Regions from separate parts of the Homo sapiens genome. Here region 1 is linked to region 2. The links come from fine-mapping of genetic effects on gene expression. A gene starts in region 2. The other region holds a variant in brackets. All regions are shown on one strand. Distances are from middle to middle. Region 1 overlaps NAA50 (N-alpha-acetyltransferase 50, NatE catalytic subunit). Region 2 holds the start of NAA50 (N-alpha-acetyltransferase 50, NatE catalytic subunit).

The links.
Region 1: its variant is fine-mapped to the expression of NAA50 in whole blood (TOPMed, PIP above 0.99).

Annotation. Positions count from the first base shown.
Region 1 is chr3:113,717,829-113,727,845 of GRCh38, reverse strand. It overlaps NAA50 (N-alpha-acetyltransferase 50, NatE catalytic subunit), which reads left to right. Exons shown (of 5, transcript NM_025146.4): 2 at 3,751-3,887; 3 at 4,305-4,424; 4 at 4,874-4,940; 5 at 5,909-10,017. The coding sequence ends at 6,086. Among named protein-coding and RNA genes, the nearest start is that of NAA50, 23 kb to the left of the region's middle. The variant A/G (reference allele first, on the strand shown) is at 4,390.
Region 2 is chr3:113,741,901-113,751,917 of GRCh38, reverse strand. It overlaps NAA50 (N-alpha-acetyltransferase 50, NatE catalytic subunit), which reads left to right and starts at 5,669. Exons shown (of 5, transcript NM_025146.4): 1 at 5,669-5,976. The coding sequence starts at 5,969. It overlaps ATP6V1A (ATPase H+ transporting V1 subunit A), which reads right to left and starts at 4,883. Exons shown (of 15, transcript NM_001690.4): 1 at 4,805-4,883. RefSeq lists enhancers at 4,926-5,295, 4,617-5,352, 5,353-6,088, 6,336-6,485, 6,089-6,825 and a silencer at 5,646-5,765.

The DNA.
Region 1 (10,017 bases), 24 kb after region 2:
AAAAATCAAATTAATTTCTCAAAAACAGCTTAATTTTTCCAACAGCTACCAAACAATACTTAAATCTCAAATTTGTTTAAAGCGTGTATATACATATATATAACGCGCATAGAAAAATATTGGAAGACTATCAGCAAACTTATTTCTGGCCATATTATTGCAGGATATTTTCCCTTTCTACGTCATTTCTATGGTGTGCTTTAAAAAAAAAAAAGGCATGTATTTTTTTAATTAGTTAGGGGAAGATTAAGCTGCCTATTTCCTAATGGTTCAATATTGTTTTCTCTATTTAGGCTTTATCTGGCCACCCTAATGGAAACTTTTTTTAGTAGTTAACTTTTATTAGACTCATTGTAGCACAGTGCACTATAACCACTTTTTCTTCTTGTATGAAGTCAAGAAATACCTGGTATTATTCTTTGAAAACTGTAAGTATGCTTGAAGCCTAGTTACTACCTACAAATGATTCCTAAAGTTTTAAAAACCTCAAGTTCTTTCATTTATACTTTAGAAGCTTGACTTTGTAGGTTCTTAAGTTACTATTATTGTTGATACTTCAACTTCATAATGTAATTTTAAATCACTTTTTAAATACTAAGACTTTTTTTTAAATGAGATGCTCTAAATTAATACAAACTGTATATAAAAAAATTACTACACCCAACTTGTGGCACTATGGTAAGTTAAACAGGAGACAGTGTAGGTAAGATGTGATCCCTGTCAGCTACTGCATTTTTAAAGGATCCTATATTTTGGCCAGGCACAGTGGCTCACGCCTGTAGGCCCAGCACTTTGGTAGGCCAAGGTGGGCGGATCACTTGAGCTCAGGAACTGTAGACCAGCCTGGGCAACATGGTGAAACCCTGTCTCTACAAAAAATTCAAAAATCAGCTGGGCGTGGTGGCATGTGCCTTCCTCAGCTACTCGTTAGGCTGAGGTGGGAAGATCACTTGAGCCTGAGAAGCGGAGGCTGCTGTGACCTGTAATTATGCCTGGGCAACAGAGCAACCCTGTCTCAAAAAAAGAAAAATAAAGGATTCTATAGTTTACAGGATAACAGTATCCACAGATTTTTCTTTCTTTCTTTCTTTTTTTTTTTTTTGAGGCGGAGTCTTGCTCTCTCGCCCAGGCTGGAGTACAGTGGTGCGATCTTGGCTCACTGCAACCTCTGCCTCCTGGGTTCCAGTGATTCTTCTGCCTCAGCCTCCCGGGTAGCTGTGACTACAGGCACGTGCCACCACACCGGGCTAATTTTTGTATTTTTAGTAGAGACAGAGTTTCACCATATTGGCCAGGCTGGTCTCAAACTCTTGACCTTATGATCTGCCCACCTTGGCCTCCCAATTTTTTTTTTTTTTTATGTGAATGGTAGATAGTGGGGAAAGTGAGCCCAGTAGATTTTAGTCAGAAAAGTGTTATGAAGAGGGGGAGTTCTGTGAATGAGATGTAATCTACTTAAAGAAAACATGAATTTCATACAGGGAATTCATTATAGTTGTCAAATACTTGGGATGAGAAAAGACTATACTTAAGTGACTAGAAGTTGGAAGAGACTATAACAAGAAAATGTCTATTTTTTTATTTTTACTTTTTTAAACTTCCTATGGTGCTGAGGGGTTTTTTAAATATATAAATCTCTTACCCTTTTACTAACATGTTTGTTTATTTAATCTGTGTGGTTGCTAAGAAACTATGTTCAGATTTTAGGAAGACATACAAGACATGAAAAGATCATTGGTTGCAACAAATAATACAGATTAGTGGTATAAAAAATAATCAAGGCAGGAAGGATAAAGTTCCAAATGAGCTAAGCCTTTCAAAACTGCTAAGTATGACAGAAACGATGCTTTATGCTGTCTTTTGTGTTCTTCATACAGACTACTTAAATAGGGGGTAAAAGTCTCTTGTTTTTGCCTCTAACTCCTTACCAAGTAGAATGTTCTCCAAACTGGGCATTATAGAGTAATACATCTTAGAGAACTTTGTACTATAAGATAAAATATTACATCATATTCCTCTCCAGATAAATCAAATTTAGAAATTTCTTTTTTTATCTGTAATTATTGCTGTTTTTTGTTTTGTTTTTGAGACAGTCTGTCACCCAGGCTGGAATGCAATGGTACACAATCATAGCTTACTGCAGCCTCGACCTTCCAGGCTCAAGCAGTCCTCTCACTTCAGCCTTCTAAGTAGCTGGGACCATAGGTGCACGCCACCACACCTGGTTAAGTTTTTTTAAAAAAATTTCTTACAAAGTTTTGCTATATGCCCAGGTTGGTCTTGAACTCCAGGGCTCAAAGGATCCTCTCACCCCGGTCTCCCAAAGTGCTGGGATTACAGGCCTTCATGCCCAGCTGTTTTTTTTTGTTTCTGTTTTTGTTTTTTTGCATTTTAATCTAAATTTTAACATTTCAAAATACAGTTTTTAAAATTACAATTTCTACTACAAATTAAAATCCTTTCAAGCATGTTTTTGTATATGTTAACAAAAGTCCGTTGTTAAATATAGTTGAAATGTGCTTTTTCTCTACAAAACACAATATGCTACAACATCTTTTTGGGCAAATAATACGGATGGAGCAAAAAAATTGTAGAATGCTGTCAGGTTTGCCTTATCACATTTGATCCACCTTTAACAGTATTGAAGTTCACTTCAGCTATTAAAAATTCTTTGTTTACAGCTCTGCAGGCAGAATACCTTTGATACTTTGTTAGAAATTGGAACTGAAAATTTTTCGCTTTAATCTTTTCCATGGACCCAATTGTTTTGATTACAAGTGGTTTCTTAGGAATGCTCCTTTTATTAGTCCTTTCTCATGCTGCTAATAAAGACATACCCGAGACTGGGTAATTTATAAAGGAAAGAGGTTTAATTGACTCACAGTTGCGCAGGGATAGGGAGGTCTCAGGAAACCTATAAACATGGTGGAAGGGGAAGCAAACACATCATTCTTCACATGGTGGCAGGAAGGAGAAATGAGAGCGAAGTGAAGGAAAGCCTCCTTATAAAACCATCAGATCTTGTGAGAACTCACTATCACGAGAACAGCATGAGGGCAACCGCCCCCATGATTCGCCGGGTCCCTCTCACAACATGGGAATTATGGGAACTACAAGATGAAATTTGGATGGGGACACAGCCAAACCATATCACTCCTGTTGCTTTCTTAATGGATAGTTTTCATCCTGGGGTGATTTTCAAGATGGTGGATTCCTTTGTTTCGTTTCCAGCAACTCTGGTTCTGAAAATGGGGTATGTGTATCCAGGAATGTGAATTTTGCATATCACCTCTGTGACTCTGATGTAGGTAGTTCATAGACCACGGTTTTCATGAATAGAATGTGCATGGTATTGCATACCTCCATTGTTTTCTTAGAATAAATTACTAGAAGTAATAAGATACTTGGGCAAAGGAACTGTAATTTTACCAGAAATAGGTGTATCTAAATTTTTCTGAACTATGAACTACAAGGAAAATTTTGACACTTGCAGAATGTTATTCTGGCCTTTGTAGTAGTCGTTGTGTACCATATTTGTCCCTGAATGTATGTAATTATATGAAAGCTATGAGTAGAATTTGTATTGAATGACTGTCAAAATTTGCTTATAAATGATAATTTGCTTATAAATCAACTCTGAAAGAGTTGGATTTATCAATCATGTAAAAAAGACTTGGTACCCCTTTCATATGTTCATATTAACAAATGGGGCTAATTATGTTTTATTGAGTACATTTTGATTTGTTCCAGTAGCCGGATCGAGCTGGGAGATGTGACACCACACAATATTAAACAGTTGAAAAGATTGAATCAGGTCATCTTTCCAGTCAGCTACAATGACAAGTTCTACAAGGATGTGCTGGAGGTTGGCGAGCTAGCAAAACTTGGTATAATATAGTTTTTTTTTTGTCCTCCCTTCTTTTCTTTCTTTTTGTTCTTGAACCCTAGTTTTTTATAGAGCAGAAGAAGTTAACTAATTTAGTTTGTTTATTTTATAAGTGAGGAAATGGGAGTGGTCTAGGTTGTGAGAAAAATCTCAGAGAAATCAGTTGAATAAAACAGTTGAATTTTAAAAAGAAATGCTTAGTGTTCTTAGTGTATACCTGTGTGTTTTCACTTTAAGCTATACTCTAGAGGAGGCTTAAACTTCCTAAGATGGCATAAGAGCTTTGAGATCATTGATATTCATGAAATAGTTGATGAAATTTAATGTTGATAGGAACAGTGTAGTCCTTTAAAAGGGAAAAAGATTAAATGTGTTATTCTGTCTGTTCAACATTATATCTTTATGTTTTCCTTGGCAGCCTATTTCAATGATATTGCTGTAGGTGCAGTATGCTGTAGGGTGGATCATTCACAGAATCAGAAGAGACTTTACATCATGACACT[A/G]GGATGTCTGGCACCTTACCGAAGGCTAGGAATAGGTAAAAAATTGTGGTTTTTTTACTTCTTCAGAGAAGCATAAACATATTATTTGTTAATGTGTCTGACCTAGTAAGTTAATTTGGGTCTTTTTAAGGAATACTGAGAAAGGGTTACTGAATTATGTAAAATATGGTGAAAAATAACTAGTGTTTATTAACATAATTCTATTGGAAGCCCTACATAGATTTGCTGTTTACGTCCCCTTCTGCTTTTTCTGTTTTTCTTCTACCCGGAAGTGCTTGTTTAAAAAGGTTAGTCTTCTGCTAACAGTTTTAAACATACGTAGCTATTGTAGAGAGAGAACACAACTTTGGAAAATAAGGATATCTAGTGTATACCTCATAAATTCTTTTAGGACTCAATAAGTAGTTCAGATGGCAAGTGGATAGATACATAATTTAAAGGTTGATTTATGAAGTCACGTGTTTGTTATTTATTTTATTAACAGGAACTAAAATGTTAAATCATGTCTTAAACATCTGTGAAAAAGATGGTACTTTTGACAACATTTATCTGTAAGTAAAATAATATTTAATGTTCTTATCAAAGGGGTTTAATTGGCAGGAGAAATCTTTACTAGAAACTTTAAAATCTGGTCACTTATTGTGCCTTTGGAAACACTGTGGAAGTAGTTGTTACAAAGTATTCGAGTAGTTGTTAGTTTTGTTTAGTTTTGTTTTATTAATAATAGTAGATTAGGAACCTGAGATAGAACACATTGCTTTATTATATTAGGATGAGAGCACCAAAGTCACAGGGATGAAATCAGGATTAAAACTCAGGCCTTCAGAATTCAAGACTATTAATACTACTTTTCTCATGCAAAACCTTGTGTGTTTTGTTCAAGGCTATGTTGATAGCTTTGAACATTGTAGTAGATCATTTGTAGTAGAGTTTAATAATCAAAATCAGAGATTACCTAGCTGAGATTGTACTTGAATCTCAAGAGGCTGTAGATAAAGAGTTATGACTAAGATCACAGTCATGGATGTTCATAATTTAGTTTGGCCATGTGAGAGATTGAATTATACAGTGTTATTTTGGGAGTAATTGAGAAAGCTTGCGTTTTTAATTTTTAAAACATACCATGTATTTTATCAATCAGAAGGAAGATATATCTTCAAGCTTTGAGACCCTAGTTTTTTATTTTTCATCATTTTTTTTCTGTGTGTTAATAGGGCCTTTTAATAATTTATCCTCTTACAGTGAAAAAATTTTGATAGCTGTGGTACTTTTCCCTTTGTTGACTACAAGAATAAACACTGAGCCTTCTAATCTCAGCCAGCTGTCTTACAAATGTAAAAATTAGATTAAAAGTGTAAAATTGTCATCAAAAGGTTTTAGGTAAGCATGCCTAACCCTTGTTGATTACTGGTAGTTGTAAAGAGAATGTAACAGATGTTTGGAGCTATCTGTGGAGAATGCTTAAAACTTGATGAAACCTTAATTTTAATTTTTTTTCTGATACTCTCTTATATCTCAGGCATGTCCAGATCAGCAATGAGTCGGCAATTGACTTCTACAGGAAGTTTGGCTTTGAGATTATTGAGACAAAGAAGAACTACTATAAGAGGATAGAGCCCGCAGATGCTCATGTGCTGCAGAAAAACCTCAAAGTTCCTTCTGGTCAGAATGCAGATGTGCAAAAGACAGACAACTGAACAAATTACAAATGAACTTTCTTGCACTTGCTTGTCGCCAAATAAAAGAGAGGCCCATTGATTCCTCCCCCACCCCAACACTTTTCTTTTAAAGCTTTTCTCCCTCCTTGTTCTTGTTTTTCTTTCTTCCTTTCCTTTTCTCTGAGAGTTTTAATACTTTCAAGGACTTTAAAAAAATAATCATGTTTGAATTGTTTTCTCTTATTTTTGTGAGGTGGTTTGAAGGAAGGACAAGGTAGATCTGTTTAGTTTTGCAGTTGAAGTTAGATGGTCCTAAACATTTAATTGTCAAATAATTTCAAATTTAATGTCCTGCTTTCACATTGAAGGGCAGAGCCTACAAAACATTGTATATTTCAAAAGACAAAAAGAAGCAGCAGCAGTATCTTGTTCTCTAATTCATAGACAAGTTGAGTGTGTTTGTGGTACTTTGGGTTTTTAAACACTTTGGGATACTAATCCCTAGACATTGCCTTCACTCCACCTTTAGTCCTTCTGAGCACTCTCTCGGGAGTTGGAACATTGTTATCCTTGTAAGAAATACTAAGCTTATGTTGATTTTTAAGTAATTATATCTTCTCTTCTTGCTGGTGGGTGGGGCAGTTTGGTTTAGTGTTATACTTTGGTCTAAGTATTTGAGTTAAACTGCTTTTTTGCTAATGAGTGGGCTGGTTGTTAGCAGGTTTGTTTTTCCTGCTGTTGATTGTTACTAGTGGCATTAACTTTTAGAATTTGGGCTGGTGAGATTAATTTTTTTTAATATCCCAGCTAGAGATATGGCCTTTAACTGACCTAAAGAGGTGTGTTGTGATTTAATTTTTTCCCGTTCCTTTTTCTTCAGTAAACCCAACAATAGTCTAACCTTAAAAATTGAGTTGATGTCCTTATAGGTCACTACCCCTAAATAAACCTGAAGCAGGTGTTTTCTCTTGGACATACTAAAAAATACCTAAAAGGAAGCTTAGATGGGCTGTGACACAAAAAATTCAATTACTGTCATCTAATGCCAGCTGTTAAAAGTGTGGCCACTGAGCATTTGATTTTATAGGAAAAAATAGTATTTTTGAGAATAACATAGCTGTGCTATTGCACATCTGTTGGAGGACATCCCAGATTTGCTTATACTCAGTGCCTGTGATATTGAGTTTAAGGATTTGAGGCAGGGGTAATTATTAAACATATTGCTTCTATTCTTGGAAAAATAGAAGTGTAAAATGTTAATAATACAAATGTCACTGTGACCTCCTCCACTGAGAGGACTGGTTTATGCCAGATCATTTTCCGGCACACACGGAGTGGCTTTGACAGATTGATAACTTTGTAAGATGGGAGACATCTGAAATATTCATGTTTTCCTTTTGTAGTCCCATCTCCACTATTTAGAAATGTTCTCAGACTTTAAAATAATGCACAGGGCTTGAGCTTTCTGTCATTTGACTTTAAAAGGAAGTTTCATTCATATTTATCCTCTTATGTAAAATTGCGGTATAAAGTCTCATTTCCAAATATGTTAAATGACAAAATTATTTTATAAAATGTTTATGCACACTTTATAACCTTAAGTTTTTATTTGAGAATGTGAAAGTACAAAGTGCAGTAGACTTCAACAATCTTGAGTGCCAAGAATAATACAGAAAAAGAAGACAGTTGATGAATGAGTTTATAGGGTTCTAATCTTAAGATGGTAAAAATGTAGAAAGACCTTGCTGGTTTTTTGGGGGTATTCGTTTCTTAAACAATCCAAATCTAAGCTTAGAAGAAAAGTTTAGCGTTAAGCACCTTTATCTTCATGAATAAGCTTCAGCTTGCTCTTGGCAAGAGAAGAGTGCTTGAGTTACAGAAGGCATAAGTAGTTTGAAGAATGCAGCAGCCTTTTTGTAAACTTCCCAGATATCAAAATAGACTTTGATATATAAATGGTTTTCTGAGATGACACTGCCTCTATTTCTATAACCATTTCACCTGGACTATCTAATCAGTCCTATGAATGTATCCCTAAATGTGGTTATTGAAAACCTAATAGCTGCCTCATGACAAGTACATGTTATTTAAGGAGGAAAAAATATTAAATTTTGAATTGAGTGTGTAGGCTCCCTATCATTATATATAGAGTTTCTTTTTCCACGGTAGTCAGTGACTTAACCTGAATTGTAAATGTTTGTAAAGGGTTAATTGTCCTACATCAAACTTAGTTAAATAATTCCATCCACTTATGGAGGAGGAGGAGAATGTGGAAGAGGTAAAAAGCTGGGCACAAGTTCATATGCCTATGAGTCAGTAAAGACTGAAGTAATGTCCTATGTTGAGCTGGTTATTTTGATATATGATAATAATTATCTTTGAAGTAGAACAATTCTGTTAACTGGAAAATCACAGGATATATCCATCATATTTTTCAGGACAGATAGTTTTTACTGTGGGGCAAATAGGTTAAAATTACACTATGTTAGTTGCATTTAGGTTTTAAAGCAAAGAATCTGTAGAGAAATCTATGCAATATATAGTTTGTCCAGATTAGCTTTCATTTGGGGAATGAAGTTCTGAAATATCTAAAGCAGTTTACTCATCAATTGAAAAGTCCTCCAAAAAGAGAACTATTGGGAAACCATGGTGTGGTGGTGGAAAAGAAAAGCTCCCTCAGTTTTTTGGAGGGAATAACTTAAAAAAATACTTAAATGGCTAAGTTTACTTGGTGCAGTTAAGAATTAAACTTGTCAATTTTAACATTGCTGTTACATCTGAAATAAACTTATGTGATGTTCTGGTAGTGATCTGTGATATCTGTAAATGTCAAAACTGTATTGTTGAATTCTGCAGCCAGCAACCGTACATACTCATTGTGTAGTGTTTCCCTTACTGCTTTTATTTACTTTCACATTTAAGATCTAATTTTAAAATCATTAAAATAGGCCAAGTGTAATTAAGGCATCCTAATTCAGATCTTCTGTGACTTGCTAGGTACAGTGCCCAATATCTACAATTCAGTTCCAATGAGAGGGAAAAAGTAAGATCCAAGGAACTGTCTTGCTGCTGTATTTTTAATGTAATTATTAGAAATACTTGACACTTTAGGCTGCAATCTAGTTAGTAATGTTTATTGGCTACAGACAACATATTCAGGTGTTTTGTTTTTCTTCCTTGTAAGGAAGGAGTACGGTAGTTCAATGAGTTGGGAATTGGCTTTTAAGCTTTTTATCAAACATGAATTTAAGATTTTTTCTTTAACAGAATTCAGTATTTAATATTTCTAGTCAAAATTGTTATAATTAGATTTTTGCTTTTTTCATTTAAGAAGCAATGAGTGATCCTTGTCTAGTGTGTCTCAGTTATTACTGTAGTTTAAAACAACAAACAAGTATTACCTTCCACAGTTCTGGATCAGGAATCTAGGAGCTGCTTAACTGGGTGGTTCTGTCTTGAGATCTCAGAAGGTTGCAGTCAAGCTGTTAGCCAGGACTGTACCATCTTGAAGCTTGACAAGGCTAGAGGAGCCATTTCCAAGATGTCTTGCTTACGTGGCTCTTGGGCTTCTGTTCCTCACTGTGTGGGTATCACACACAGTGCCTGATGCTCACGTGGCTCTTGGGCTTCAGTTCCTTGGGCACCAGTTGCCTGGTGGACAACTGGTATGTGGCTTCCCCTAGAGCAGGTGATATAAGAAAGTGAGCAGAAACCATACTTTTTTATGACGTAGCCTCAGGTGACATTATTTCTGCCATATTCCATGAGTCACACAGACCAACCATTGAATCAGCTTGGTATAGTGTGGGAGGGGACTGCACAAGGATGTGAATACTGGGAGGTGGATATCATTGGGCCCTCTAGGAGACTGGCTATCACTGCTCAGAGAAGATGCTGGGCTTCGTTGACTCCCAAGGTCAGGGTAGTTTTGGTTAGGTTGTGTTTTATTAGTCTCTAAAAGGAGTAGTTT
Region 2 (10,017 bases):
GCTAATCACAGTTGTAAATTTATTAACTAGAGCTAACTACAAAGAAATATACAGAAAGAGGAGTTTCAAATGTAAATAAATCATTATTCTAAAGATCACTTCAGTAGTTTCAGGTAAAAATAAATATGTTACTACGAAGATACACAACCACTTCAGCTGTCTTTATATATACATACACACACATTGCGTACTTTATATACTACAAATATTTACTCTATATATAGTATATACATAATATGTATATACTAAATATAAATGAATACACTTATAAAAACCAAAGTCGCTATCATTTCACCATAGGGAAAAAAGAGAATAGCAAAACTAATATTCTCTTCAGAAATTATATGGAAAACATTTTTATTGCTCACATTTCATTTATTTAAAATAAAGTTACTTAGTATAAAGAATAAATTCATTCCTAAATCAATAAATCCATTTGTTATAATAGACAATCAACATTAAGGAAAAGTCAATAAACTTAATAAAATCTTTCCTTAAGACAAATGAGTAATTTTTTTTTTCAGGAATAAAGTGATTCATAAACTCATGATAGCTATACTTACTGTTTAATTTGCTGATATTTTCCATTGCAAAACTACTAACCCTTGTGAATCATGAATTTAAGAAGGGAAGAATTTTACTCTAGTTTATGTCTCCATTATGTTCTCTACATTTCTTTGTCTATTTCATATAAGGATAAAAATAAGATATAAAAACACTTAATTTTTTTAAAAAGACAAAATTTTTAAGCTTATAAGCATTAACTCAAAAGTCCCTGCTCTACAATCTGTACAATTTTAATATACTTCTATAATCCATTGCAGGAATAAAAACTTCAAAATTGAAGAACTGCCTCCTTAAATTTATTCCATACATTAATGATTACAAGCTTTGGAAAATCTTTATATAGAAAATATTAAGACACTGCAGTTGCCCAAATAAGGGACTTTATCTTGATATTTTTCAGATAAAATTAATAAATCTGTTTTAGAATCTTTGCTACAAGTACACTTTTCTTGTTCCCCCATTTTTTGGGTAATAGCTTCTTTTCAAATTCTACTCTCTTCTTCATGCCCCAAACCTGCTGCTCACAGGGACATCAGTCAATTCTGTGGGTTGTCTTAAGTCTTTAGAAATTCAGTATATAAAATCAAAGTAGTTATCAGTAAAATTAATTAAAAATTTTTTTTACAAAATATGTTCTAGGCATTTTACATTCATGATCTAACTTAATAGCACCATCTATAGATTTAAACGTGAGAAAACTTAACCTTACTTAAGTACACTGTCCAAAGTCACACAGTTATTAAGTGGTAGGGCCAGAACTTCAACTAGGTCTCTATGACTGGGAAATCAATTCATGTAAAGTCTGAGCTACACTGCTTTACCATTTTACACACCACTTAGTTTTTTTTGTTTTTGTTTTTGTTTTTTTTGAGATGGAGTCTCACTCTGTTGCCCAGGCTGGAGCGCAGTGGTGTGATCTTGGCTCACTGCAACCTCCACCTGTCGGGTTCAAGTGATTCTCCTGCCTCAGCCTCCTGAGTAGCTGGCACTACAGGCGCGTGCCGCCATGCCTGGCTAATTTTTTTAATTTTTTTAAGTAAAGACAGGGTTTCACCGTGTTAGCCAGGATGGTCTCGATCTCCTGACGTTGTGATCTGCCCGCCTTGGCCTCCCAAAGCACTGGGATTACAGACACCACTTAGTTTTTAAGATATTTTCACATAGATTACCTAGGGTTTATGTCATAGGAAGGTTCCTAAGTATCAAACCTGAACCCCTCCCCAGCATTACGTAAAAGGACATATAACTAAAGTGGCAGAGCTGAATGAAGATCCTCTGACTTTTAGTCTAGTGCTAGTCCACTTATAGATCACGCAGAGCCACTTTTTCATTTAGTACGATTCATTCCTCTTCCCTTCTCTCCCATATTTTGATGATAACCATACTTATTAGTAAACAAACATGCTGTGAAAATAAGTTGGTCTCAGCATTAATAAAGTCCATCTGAGGTTTTTATCTATTGTATTGACCATGAATTTGGAAGGTTATTACCAGTTTATATTTAAAAGCTAACATTTAGTGCACAACTTTAGGAAGAGCTATGATCTGCAAAAATTAAAGTGGTTTAATTTCTTTGTCTAATTGCCCAACATTCATTCAATAAATAATTTATTGAGTACCTATCAGGTACTTCAGTATTCTGGTGCTGAAGACACAATAGTATTATAGTTCACAGTCCTGAGAGCTTTATGATTTGCTGAGGAAGAGCCCAGGGAACAGGAATTAAATACAATGCTAGAAGTGCAAGTAGAAGAATAGAAAAGATGATGATGATGATTAGTAGTAGTCTATAGGACTGAGTGGCTACCTCTGCCCATGGGGAAGAAAGCATTCTTAGTGGTGGCAAAAATCTATAAAGGCACTGAAAACAAGAACTCAGGAAAAGAAAACCAGAAGTGCCAAGGGCCCTAAAATAAAACCAAACCCTTATGCTTTATTTAATAGTGGACTATAGCACAATTCCCTAATAAATGTTAAGATTTCTACATGTAACACTCATAAACTGATAAGGCTAGTCTCAGAAATGTTTTCCAGGCTTCCAATCGTGTGTGTGTGTGTGTGTGTGTGTGTGTGTGTGTGTGTGTGTGATCTGTGTATAATGTCAAAGCTTTTTTTCACATTTAACCTTACTAGCAATGTAATCACCAATTCCCACTACTAATCTACATTTCATCAGTGGTCTAAGTTATTGCTTTCACGAGTTCCCTAAAACTGGGGGAATTGTGAAGTAAAACTGCAGACTCATCCAACCACTTTCATACTGACATTTTCCCCTCTAGTAGTCAATGCTTCTAGCTGGTTTTCTCTTTCACATTTTGGTCTCAGCCAGACAGGACTAGTTAGGACTTCCAGACCACATAAGGAATTCTCCTTACGTGGTGCAATGTCACCTGGTCACTGAAGTAACACTTCCTTTTTTTCTTCCCCTCTCCTCTAGAGATCAAGGAACCTTATTATGGAGAAAATTAATGGATAAAACTACATATATATATCTACAGCAGGCATGATGACATAAATATATCAATACATTAGTCTATTGTCCAGTATGGGTCGTAAGTACGAAATGCTAAAATGGTAAATCCACAAGAGATAGTAGTAATCTTCATTACTTGGGGAAAGCAACATCTCCGAGGTTATGTTTTCTACTAAGGAGCATCAATAAGCTAGGTTATGTATTTTGCACTTACTATAAAAATACTTTGTTAAACTGCTGCTATTGTAGAATTTTAACTTTTTATTCTCCTTAACAAAATAAGACCGTTTATTGTATAGAATTTGGAAGACACAGAAAAACAAAAATAAATCAGTCACATCCACCAAAGATGATTCCATCTTCCTCATTTTCCAGCAGTCTTCTTTAATTACCTTAGTTAGAAAACTACAAGATTTAACTGAGCATATAATTTTTCATATTAAGAAAGGTGTAATTTAAATTTTAAAAATCAAATTTGTAATATTCGTAAGACCTTCAATTGAAAAGCAGCATGGAATTTTCTGAGTTTGCAGTATAAATAAAAGAGTTTAACCACAAACTGAAAAACATTCTTCCCTAAAGCACATTGTTTGGGATCAAAACATTGGTAATAATACATTATGGACGGAATGGGAGTACTTGGGTTGGACAACACCTGTATTTTCAATTGGACAACAATTTCTGTATTTTCACAAAATACTATTCATCAAAATCTGAAGAGGGCACCGGGAGTTTTACAAATGGGGAAAGCTAAAGAGGGATACAAATGCTACTTAACCTAAATTTACCACAAAGCCGATCAAGGAATAGATTGGGAGTGCCAATTCAGTAGTATTTTAGGGGAAAATGACAAAAAGGGAAGGATTGACGGCAGAAAACATGTGCAGACAGCAACATCTCGACTTGATTCTACCTTTAAGCATATGGCCAAATCAATTTGGTTTAACTATTTCCAACCCAATCAGTTTCTTATTTCGGTTTCAGGGAACCCTACTCACTCTTCCCTAAACCAGCCTGGGCCTCCTGCACACCACAACACCACAATACCATCTTTCAACGCCTCCTCATTCAATCGAGACTGTCGCATTACTAACACCTCCTGTTTTGAAGACAGTATTCCTTCAACTGTCCTCTCTGCAGAGAAGAAAAAGTAAAAGCCCTTCTTTTACTTTTCTAGTCCCATCCGAAGCACGTGAACATCTACGGAACCTTCCCTGCAGGTATGTCAGATAAAATCCTTAGAATCACTGAGAAAGCACATTCGGAGGGAAGCTTCACAGTGACTCTGCAGTGAGGGCCGTATCAGTGACAGTCCCTCCCAAGCCTGTCTCACCGGAGACGCCTCTGCCTCCAGGGTTTTTGCTACCTCCCCGCTCCTCAGCCCTGAGCTGAGGGTAAGGACAGTGAGGACCTTTGCCAAAGAATGGGCTTTAAGGAATGGGACCTAATGTCTACTGCAGACCCTGTGAAATGGCTGAAACAATCTGCTACCCGAAGCCCCAAAGGCTCTGAGTAGGGAACCATAATGGCCGCACTCACTTCCAACCCTGGGAAAGGTGGACATCTGAATCCCCAAGTAGCGGGAACGACCACACTTGGGGGAGCGGGGGTTAAGGAGAAATGAGCTCCTTGCCGGTGCAGGGTGACAGCGGGGAGGAAGCCTCAGGCAGAAAAGTCGCCGTTCACACTCTCCCTTCTCTCCTTCCTCTGCCTCCTTCCACCCCCTCTATCCCCACCACTCGCCAGTTACCGGTCGCCGCTCACCTGCTGGGGCGCGAGGTGCAGAGACTGTACCGACCGAGGACCCAGAGGCTGTCACCACGGAGGGGAAGTCCTCAGCTGCACAGGTTGGGGGGGGGGGGGGGGGCGGGCCCAACCAGTCACATGACGTCGAGCTCCGCCCTGCCTCCTCCATCCCAGCGCTCTACATCTCGGGGGGCCTGAATTTTTACGGATCCCTTGAATATTAATTTTCTTGGATTAAAGAAATAAAAGATAAATTTTCACAAAGAGTATGTTATAAAGTACAATGTGGAAAATGTGGACAGCAAGAGTTAAAGCGCATTGCTAAGGAAGTGACGTTCACGCCACAATCGAGGGACAGGAAATGGCGGTGGCGTTCCGTCCCTCTGGAGTCCGCCGGTAAAATTCCAGGCTCTGAGGTTTGGGCCAATCACGTGATCTTAAAACTTGAGGCGTGCTGGAGGGTAGCCAATCTATCTGGCCGATTGTTAACTACGTTTGTTTTAAAACACCTAACTTAAACTTGAGCTTTCCACAGATTTCTTTACATTTAGAAGAACTAACTTTATAAAACCCTACTAGGAGGCAACAGCGTTTGAAGGTCACTCTGGAGACCACAAACTGGGAAGAACGGGGCTGAGAAAAACTATCTTGCGGATATGGGACAAGAGAGGGAGGGGTGGAAAAATCTGGATTTTACCGCCAGGGCCTACCGAGCCAGCCCCACAAGCAGTGTCGTAAGCGGGTGGGAGGGAGGAGCATGACCCCAGAAGGCCCAGTCCAGGAGAAAGATGGAGGTTCCGGAGTGGAGGGGGCAGGGTGCGCGGAGGCGAGCAGTGCGGCTGCGCGTGAGGCGGCGGCGCGCCGGCGCGCGAGGGGCGGGGTGAAAGGTCACAGCGCGGCAGCGGGTCTGGCTGGCGGCAGCGGCGGGAGGGAGCCGAGAGACCCGAGTGCACGTGTGGAGAAGCGGCGGCACAAGCGCGGCGGCGGGAGACACTCCCGCCCCCACCAGACTCAAGCCCTCACTCGACTCTCGCGGCCTTCGTTGCTCGCACAGCTCCCTGCCCAGGCTAGGAGGCCGGCTTGCGGGGTTGAGTGGCCCGAGCTAAGGGTGCGGAGACCTAAGGGCGGCGACTACGACGGCGTTGATATCGGTGGTAACGACGGCCTCAGCAGGCGGGGAAGATGAAAGGGTGAGGAAGGGCAGCCGGGCAGGGCCCGGCCGGTGGGGTAGAAGGGTCCGGGCCCATGTAGAGGGGGAGAGCCGCAAAGGCGAGGAGAGATTCAGGGCGAAGACGGGCGGAGGGAGATTTCTCTGCTTCTCAGTTCCCTCGGCTCCCGGAGGGGGCGGAGGCGAGGCTCGGGCTGTTGGCGGGCTGAAGGGCCAGCGGAGGCAAGACCCGGGGGGCTTCAGGGTTTCGGTTCGGAGACGAGTGTGGGTTGTTGAGTGGGGAGAAGCGACCGAGTGGGGCAACATGGAAAGGCTATTGTGAAGCGCCCGGGGCCTCCTTCCCGGGAGCGGACCGCTGAGCCACGCCGGCCCGCAGCTCCAGGTGGAGTGGTTTGGTTGTCTTCCACCTCCAGACTCAACTCTGGAACTGCGGTGTTTGACACCTTTCAGTTTAATTCACGCTTGGGAGCTGTGCAGAACCTTCTGGAGGAAGAAGAAATTGGAATAAAGAGCACGGGGATGAGTATTAAGAGCTAGTGACTCAACTAGATTTGGGTTGGGTCACAGCGAGTGGAGGAGGGGGAGAGAGCGCGATCACTGTAGACTTGGGGTGCCAACATATTTAAGGAAGTATAGGGTGGATCAGTAGGTGGAGCTGTTGCTTCAGTAGTTCACTATTGCCCCTGAGTGCTGAGGCGGTCCTGGGTAGTTCTACCACGCTGCTCCTTTCAGGTGATTGGCAAAGTTAATGTTCGGTCTTTCACCGTTTGCCTCTTACGTAAAATTAGGAATTATTTTGGATCGACTGGTTAAGTTTTTATGAAATGTCTCCTTACCATTAAGTTGTATAGTTTTAATGTATTAATTACGTAACATTTTTCCGAAGCATTGTCTCAAGCCGTTTTGGAGCTTGTCTTTACCCTCAAAGAGATGAAGCTCATAAACGTTAAAAAGCTCTCTGCGATGCCATAGTTTGTTGTTGTAAGTCGATTAAGAAGTCGTAACTATGTTTTAAGTTAACGAAGTCATTCCAACTATTCAATAGCACTTTTGAGGATGAAATAAAAGTCACTTTCAACGTAATCTCATACTGCCCCAAACAAGGACCTAAATATTACCTCTGTGTATCGGTATTTGAGGTTCCTGAAGAGATTCCAAGAAAGTTTAATTTGGTCTTAGGTCTGTAACATGTTTCCTTACTTTAATTTTCCTTTAAATACTGGATATTTATTCTAATGTTGAATTGTATGTTTTGTACTAATAATCTTTAAAGTTTAAGAACCATGAACTATTCACAGTACCTGCATTGTTTCACATCAAGTTGTAAAGAGTTCCAGTTAGGGAAATATAATTGACGGGTATAGGAAGTATTTGCTCCACTTGAATCATGATCTTGGAAGTTTGGCTATTTCAGATACAATCCAACATATTTGGAGAATGTTGTTTTTCTGCTATACTGCACTCCTTTTGTTTTGTTCTTTTCATTTTTTTTTTTTTAATGAGGCAGGGTCTGGCTCTGTTGCCCAGGCTGGAGTGCAGTGGCGCTATCTCGGCCCACTGCAACCTTTGCCTCCCCAGCTCAAGCAATCCTCCCGCCTCAGCCTTCCGAGTCGGTGGGACCTCAGGCGCGCACCACCACGCCTTGCTAATTTTTTGTATATTTTGTAGAGACGGGGGTCTGACTATGTTGGCCAGGCTGGTCTCAAACTCCTGAGCTCAAGCGATCCACCCACCTCTGCCTCCCAAAGTGCTGGGATTACAGGTGTGAGCCACTGAACGCGGCATATACTGCACTTCTTGAACATGGTTGCTGACTCTTACTCATTTTTGTACTCATTGTCAGGCACTCAGTACTTGTTTGTCATGTTCTGTTAAGTAAGAAAAATGAGGCTGAAGAGTTCCCAGTGTTGAAATTGCCATGGATTTACGAAGGGGTTGCCAGGAAATTATTCTGTATGTTTAGATCCAAAATCTTCAATCTAGTTCAGTCTCCATAGGCTGTGATGTTCTTTCTGATACATAACTTGGCGATAGAAATGAAGCTGAACAGTCATATTATTCACAATCTACCTTGAATTAATATATTCATGGAGCAATTATCTCTGTTTAAAATGGGTATTTACATGTAACCTGATGAAGGCAGATCCCTAGAAATAACTGGCCGAATTTAGAGGAAACTTACAACTATTGAATCTGTACCTTTATGCCAGTAACTATGCCAGTGAAGTTCCTATTACTTCTTATGATTGGGAGCTTAGAATTGTGTTCTTTACTGTAAACCTTTAAGATGATTTCACAGGAATAATCCCTTTAACTTAACAAATGAACTAACTCCCAGATGAGATGAAACTTTTTAATTTTTTTTGCTTCTAAGTCTGTATTTAAGACACTCAACAAATGAGTTGTGTGAATCTTACTTGTGCTTGTTCGGATACTGAACCTACAACAGTATAGGTTTAAAATAAGTTAAGCGCCTTGAGTTCCAAAACTTGTACCACAGTGCACAGTGTGGTCGATTTTAAAGTCCTGACTCTTAATTTGGAATGGCCTGTAAAAACGAAACAGTGGTCCTGGTTATGTGGCTTTTGTATGAAATTTTATTTGCTAAGTATTCTATTGTATATTGAGGTAAGTAAACAGTAAATTGAAATATCTAAAATTGGAAACTGCGGAAGTCCCAACACGAAGCCAGTCAAATATTTAAAATTGTACACTGTTGCCTATGTTGCCTATCATATTGAAACTTAAAACTTAGCTGGTTTTTCTTCATATTTTTACCATGAGTATTTTTATTAGTAGTAGCAGTAGGACTTTCCATTGTATTGGCATGTCTTTCCTCCATAGAAGATAAATTTCCGGTTATTAACTACTGAATGTAATTTATATGCACATGTAGAAGTTTGAGATATACTAGGAAATGTTGCTTACTTTTGAGGTTGGCTGTTTTTATGAACCAGGGACATTGTAGTTTGAATTTGTGGGTGATATTTTTATCTGTTCTTCTCTAGGGAAGGCGATTTCAAGCAAGAAGGTATGCCACAGATAACCATGACTGAGGTGGCAATGTAATTAGGCAGTGTAATGGAAAGTATAATAAAACCAAATCATTTAGCCTTCAATTGTAGTAAAGAGGTGCAAATTAGTTCTAATAAAAAATGTCTTTAACAAAATGTGAATACGTGACTAAGATGGGAAAGTAGGTAGCAGTAATATAAATATGGAACAATGTTGACTACTAATTGGAATAGTAAAGGGAGCCATTTTACCAAATAAAATTAAAATGTAAGATTCTGCAGTCAGAAACAAAACTTTAAAAACTCCGAACAGTGGTTACCTCTGACAGCATATGGACTGGGAAGGGGCAAAAGGAATGCTTTTTGCATCTCAGCATAGTGAGACCTTGTCTCTACAAACAATAAAGCAGCCAGGAGAATCACCTGAACCTGGCAGGTGGAGGTTGTAGTGAGCTGAGATCGTGCCACTGCATTCCTGCCTGGGCGACAGAGTGAGACTCTGTCTCAAAAAAAAAAAAAAAAAAGCCAGGCATGCTGGTGCAAGTCTGTAGTTCCAGCTACTTGGGAGGCTGAGGCAGGAGGATCACTTGAGCCCAGGAGTTCAAGGCTGCAGAGAGCCATGATCTTGTCACTATATTTCAGCCTGGGCAACAGAGCGAAAACTGGTCTTAAAAAACAAAACAAAACAAAACTTTTTTTAAAGGTTTATTGCTGTTTTGTTTTTCAGCAAAACCAAAAGCTAGTCAGGCTGACGTAGCATTTGACACCTTTTATAAACCTACAGTTTATACTTCTTCCTTCTGTGAAACAATTTGTGGTTTGTTGATTGAGATAGTGAATTTTAACAAATACTTTGTAATGTGCCCTTGCTGTGTTGAGATGAATTCATATAAAATATAACCTTACACCATAAGTTTTTTTAAAAAATCAATGTACTGTTCTCTCTAATATAAAAGAAAAATAAAAGGGAAGTAATTTATAATAAAATTTATTTCAGTATTTAATGATGTGGCACAACTATGCCATAAAGCATAAGATCAAGTGTTTGC